Linked DNA regions of Homo sapiens: region 2 is linked to region 1. The links come from fine-mapping of genetic effects on plasma protein levels. A gene starts in region 1. The other region holds a variant in brackets. All regions are shown on one strand. Distances are between the middles of the regions. Region 1 holds the start of INPP1 (inositol polyphosphate-1-phosphatase). Region 2 overlaps INPP1 (inositol polyphosphate-1-phosphatase).

Region 1 (2,909 bases):
ATCATACAGTGGGCAAACTTCTGCTTATTCAACACTTTAAAAATACCTTTAAAATGAGAAATCTCCAAAAAACAAGCCGTGGTTTCTTATAAGTGTTTTTCACAGATGTACTAAAGTAAGCGTTTCCTTTCACACTCTTTGCGCCTAACCGTCTACATGATAGGGCCAAACCCAGGTTAAATATTTTTTTCCAGCTACCACTCTGGACACACCAACTAATTATGCACACCTCACAAAACCACCTTTCAAAATGCAGAGAGAATTAACAGCAAGGAAGTAAAGATTTTTCTAAATATAGTCCCATCATATTTATTTCACACTCATCAAGTAGGTCACTGGAGGTAGCTGGCAGCTAGGGACACTCAGATGCATCTCTCAAAGCCAAGGCTGAGACCAAGGGGTCACTGACAGCTGCGCCATCTACCTGTTGCAGCTGGGCCACTGCTCTGGACAACTGTCAGATCAGCTTCTTCGTCCTACAAATACTAATGACTGGATTTTTAAAATCGTTGTTTGCCACCCTTTCTTCCCGCCCCCCAACCCCATCGGGCCGCTCGGGCAGGGCCAAGGGCGCCGCGGGACTCACGAGCTCCCCTCCGCGCTGGCTGCAGCGGCGATGCCGGGCATGCCTGGCCGGGCCCGGCCGGGGGCGGCCTCGCTGCCGGGGCAGGGACCTCGCAGGCCGGCGCGCAGAGGCGAGGAACCCTCCCGGCGCCATCGACTCACCTACCCGCGGAGAGGCGACGGCGCGCGCCGCTCACCAGCCCGGGCCCCAGATCCAAGGAGGAGGGGCAGCGGCGCGGGGACCCTGTGGTGGGTGTCGTAAGGAGGAAAACGTGTTACCTAAGCCGGGGATGAGGACAGAGCAGGAGGCAGCAGCCTTTCCCTCGAGAAACGGAAGCGGCGGGGAGCAGGAGGAGGAGGAGGCGCGGCCCGGGCGCGAGGTTAGGCGAGGGGCGCTGGGCGTGCGGCCGCAGGCGCGGCCAGAGGACGAGGGTTGGGGAGGACGGCGGAGGTCACGCGAGCGAAGGCGAAGCCCCGGCGACGCACGGCCCCGCTTGGCTCGGCACCGGATCCGAGCTTGGCCTCAGCCAGGCCGCCGCCCCCGGCTTTCCCGCGGGACCGCGGCGTGGAAACGCGCGCTGCCGCCTCGGGGCTCCCGGGACGCGCGGGCCCCCCACGCCTGCCCGAGCCGGGCGTCCGCGACGTCACAAGTGGAGCGCGATGATTCAGAGGGAGGGCCAGGAAGGGAAGGGCTCTGGGGTCAGCTTGGCCACGGCTGCTGTTTCCTTGTCGCCGCCCACGAATTCACTTTTAAATCTTCCTCCTCCATTCATCTGTACTCTCATAGGGGACTGCGGGTTTGACAGATGGGTTGGCAGCTGTGAAGATGGACTTCCTGCCAGTGGTATCCGGGTCCCACTGTTCTAATGGAAATGTCAGGTGTACTGGATGTTCCTCAAGACACAGCAGTGTCTCTGGGCCTTGCCTCTTAAGGAGTGGGCCTCGGGCCACCTGGACAGGAAGCGCATCAAGGGTGGGGAACTTATCTCTCTCCAGCCTTTGGTGCTGTGATACTCAGTGTACCTTAAGGATGGTTTGGGTTGAACCTAGGTAGGAATGGGTGTTGGTGGGCGGGGTGGGGGTGGGGGGAATAGAAACCTTAAAAGGGCAACACAAAGTTTTGAATAGAAGAGGCCAAGCAGCCTCGCCCAGAAGCTGATGTTTGTGAATGTACTGGGCCTTCTAAAGCGGCGCTTCACACACCTTTTCACTTCTTGGCACAGGTAGGAAAGGATGATATTACAAGGGTCAAAATGGGGGTAAACAGAAGAGGCTGCTCCTGCAGAAGGCTTCCTGCAGAAGCCCTTGCACTTGGAGGGCTGGGAAGACCCATGCTGTATCTGCATCCCTGTCATTCGTTTCACGGCATCCAGTTGGGAAGCTCTGCTTAAAGCTTTGTCTGGCACGTTTTCTTAGCTACATTTTTCCACTCCAGCTGAGACTGCCTCACTGAGTTGTCAACACTTGGTCTTCTTCAGCAGTGAGGAACCAACAAGACAGGAGGCTGGGTCAATACTCAACTTGGCAAACTCCAGGAAATGGTGCTTAAAACGTTTGGCTTCTTGAATGGAATTCATGGTACTGCTCCCAGCCTGCACCTGGGTTCTCCAACTTGAGACAATTTCTCCCCGCATCCCCCCACCCTTCCCTGGCTTTCACTCACTAGCAAGTGGGCTGCTTCTACTTTCTTTCTCACATTCATTTCTTAGGTCCATTCTCAGAGCGGTTAGGATTACTGTTTAATTAGCCTCATAATCATATCTATGATGGCAAAATCAAGAAACAATTTAAACATGATTCTTAAAAGTAAGGAGATAAATACCAGAGACATAGAAGGTGAAAGAATTTGCCTCTAGGAAGCAGGAATTTAAATTTGGGGAAGACAGGGTGGAGCAAGGGATATAAATCTAGTCCATTTTTCTTTTCTTTTCTTTTCTTTTTTTTTTATTTTTAAGATAGAGTCTCACTCTGTCGCCCAGGCTGGAGTGCAGTGGCATGATCTTGGCTCACTGCAACCTCTGCCTCCTTCGTTCAAGCGATTCTCCCACCTCAGCCTCCCTAGTAACTGGGATTACAAGTGACTGCCACTATGCCCAGCTAATTTTGTATTTTTAGTAGAGACGAGGTTTCACCATGTTGGCCAGGCTGGTCTCGAACTCCTGACCTCAGGGGATCCGCCCAGCTCAGCCTCCCAAAGTGCTAGGATTCCAGGCGTGAGCCACTGCACCTGGCGGAATCTAGTCCATTTTCCACTTTGCTACCACACATCTGCAGGGTTTCTTGCTTGCTTAAAAGCTTTCATTGGCTCCCAATCTCTGATAATATCAAGAGCAAGTTCCTGAACA
Region 2 (2,909 bases), 12 kb before region 1:
TCCGGAAATCACCACCACTCCCTTCTTTCACGCAGAAAGCTCATCAATTTAACCCTGGTGAGTTTCAGCACAAATGCTGCAGTAATCTGGAATTTGTCCTCTTTGGGCCCAACCTTTATTTCCTCAATAATGACCACTCTCACCTGACCTGAGCAGTTGCTGCTTAGCGAGCACAGCAACTTGACCAATGGGAAAGAAGTACTGGCTATTCACTGCAGCCCTGTAATGAACAGGTCTACCGATTTTAGGAATTTCTCATAACACAATAATCAGGTTTTTCAGTTCCAAGGTTATCCCAGAGTTCACTCTTCGTTTTGGCCCTAGGCAACACTGTCATATTTTGTCAAGTTCCAGGTTGAACTGCCCAGTTTCAGATTGAAACCACTTTCACCAGCCATGCTAATGAGCCCAGCATTTGTTCAGCTACTTCCCTTTCTCCAAGGCCCTGGCTCTCCATGTATCCTCAACTCAGTTCACACAGGCAGGCCACAAACCTGAAGGAAGCATTGCACAATTCATCCTAACCTTGAATGGCTCAACTTGAAATAATTTGTCTATGGAGAAACTGAAGGCTACATCTAATGCAGAATTTATTCTTCCATTTTATCAATACATTTATTAAAACTCATGGAAATTATCTTTCAGATGATTTTTTAATTAATTTATTTATTTTTTCAACTTTTATTCTAAGTTCAGGGTTACATGTGCAGGTTTGTTATATAGCTAAACCCATGTCATGGGGTTTGTTGTACAGATTCTTTCATCACTAATGGGTACTAGGCTTGATAACTGCGTGATGAAGTAGATGATTTTTTAAAAAGTAAGTTTACATACTCATCATTCACCTAAGACCACTTTATTTCAACACTGTACTTTAAATAAAAATTATTATAGACTTATGATTAGTAAGTTATGGCATTTACCATAATTTAATAGCCTTGACTATAGAAGAAATTCCTTTTGATTAGTATTTCTCAATGGATGTTCTGAGAGTTACCTGTATCAGAATTACCCAAGATGGCCTTCTAAAAAAACAGATTGCTGGACTCTACCCCAGCTTAGTGAATCAGAATCTCTGGAGACAAGCCCTAGGAATCTGTATTTTTGTCAGCAACCTGTATAACTCTAAACACAGATTTAATAGCTCCAGTTCTCCAGGTTGCTTATTTTTCTTTACCTCTATGCTGGCAATTTTAGTGGCAGCTGGCACCTGCTGGCAGGTATCTTGGTGAAACAATGTAGGTACAATGGTTTTGCTATCTGTTATTCTTGTGCAGAGATAGGTTAAAATTGAAACAGCTAACATTTACTAGGTGCTTACTATATGCCAGGCATCCTTCTAGGCACCTTACATGTATTAACTCATTTAATTCTTATATAACCTTAGGAAGTAGGTACTATTATCTCCATTTTACAGATGAAGAACCTGAGGCACAAGGAGATTGTTTACTGAAAATCACAGAGCTAGGAAGTTGTGGGA[C/A]AAGATTCAAACCTAGGCAAGCTGGCAGAAGCCCCCACTGTTGACCAGTACTCTAGCCAGTGAAATCTTTTCATCAATTGTTAACTATTAAAATAAGGGAAAATCAGTAATTGTTGGATAATAATCATAAGTACATTAGTATTATAAGGTACATTATATAGCAAAAAAAAAAAAAATGCACACACACACACACACACACCCCTAGTTGATATCTGTCACTAGGTTTGATCATTATACGTCACTATTTGACTTCCCTTTTACTCTCAGAAAAACCTTTTCTCCAGCTGATCTTCAGCCTCTGTTAAGGACCCTTCTGGGTAGTAAAAGCTCATCTATTAAGTTCCACTGATGTCTCCCTTAACTGTCATGGCATTGATGGCAGGGGGCATGCCCAATACCTAATTCTTCTGGTGTTAGTTTGTTAAGACTGGGTAGCTTAACAATAAAATCGCACTTTCTCACAGTTCTGGGGACTGGAAGTCCAAGAGCAAGGTGTCAGCAGGACTGGTTTCTCCTGAGGCTTTGCTCCTTGGCTCACAGACGGCCCCTCTCATTGTGGCCTCACCTGGCCTTTCCATCGTGGGCGTTAATCTCTGGCATGTCTCCCTTTTCTTACAAGGACGCCAGTCAGACTGGATAAGGATCCGCCTGTATGACCTCACATAAACTTTAAAGGTCCTATCTGCAAGTACAGTCCCATTCTGAGGTACTGGGGGTTGGGGCTTCAACATGTGAATTTTGAAGTAACATAATTTAGCCCCTAAAACCTCTCCTGAAAGACAGGCCGTGGTTACCTTAGCGACCCAATCTATTAGCTGACACAATCTATTCCTTTGTCTTTTGTTTTCTGGCCAAAAGTGAAAATGGGATAGTGTTTTCCTCCCCATTTATGTCGTCAATAAGAAACATCTGTGAGGCAGTCGTTCCCACTAAAAGCTATTCGCTTTAACAGCCAAGTAATTAATATTGCAGTGAGCACTGAACCTCTCATAAGCCTTGTTTTGTAACAATCTATTTCAAGTCACATTTCAGCAAAATGGGCTTAAAGAAGTTTCATTCCTTCCATCTCAAACCAAATGTACGTATCTATATGTTTAACATAAAATTGTGTCACAATGTCAGATAGAATTAGGGTCTCTTTTGCTTTTGTAGGATTGTCTAGTCCAGTTGGAGAGCTACTAAAGGAATTGAAGTATGTCAGAAGGAAAAAAGGTTCTTAAGACTTTTCTTGGAAACCCAAACCTCTCCACAAAGATAAATCTCAAATTTCCAGCCATTATCAGAACATCAGAGGTTTAAAAATCCTATCTGAATAATTTAGACATATTTCAGATGGGATAAACTATATAGTGGAAAATACACAGGCTTTTGAATCAGAAAGGCCTGGGTTCAAAACATAACTCTGCTACTAACTAGCTGTGTGGCATCA

What was found. A credible set is the group of variants that fine-mapping cannot tell apart. PIP is the chance, under the fine-mapping model, that this variant and not a neighbour inherited with it causes the effect. The UK Biobank Pharma Proteomics Project read protein levels with antibody pairs (Olink). The fine-mapping took linkage between variants from a reference panel, not from the people measured, so its PIPs are less certain.
Region 2: its variant is the best candidate, but not a certain one, in a credible set for the plasma level of the INPP1 protein (UK Biobank, PIP 0.58).

What each region holds. Positions count from the first base shown.
Region 1 is chr2:190,341,896-190,344,804 of GRCh38, reverse strand. INPP1 (inositol polyphosphate-1-phosphatase) reads right to left here and starts at 1,216. Exons shown (of 7, transcript NM_001128928.2): 1 at 844-1,216. It overlaps LOC124906109 (serine/arginine repetitive matrix protein 1), which reads left to right. Exons shown (of 1, transcript XM_047446773.1): 1 at 1-2,909. The coding sequence starts at 489. The coding sequence ends at 1,367. RefSeq lists silencers at 521-850, 921-1,230.
Region 2 is chr2:190,353,696-190,356,604 of GRCh38, reverse strand. All of the region lies in intron 2 of INPP1 (inositol polyphosphate-1-phosphatase), which reads right to left. Among named protein-coding and RNA genes, the nearest start is that of INPP1, 12 kb to the right of the region's middle. The variant C/A (reference allele first, on the strand shown) is at 1,481.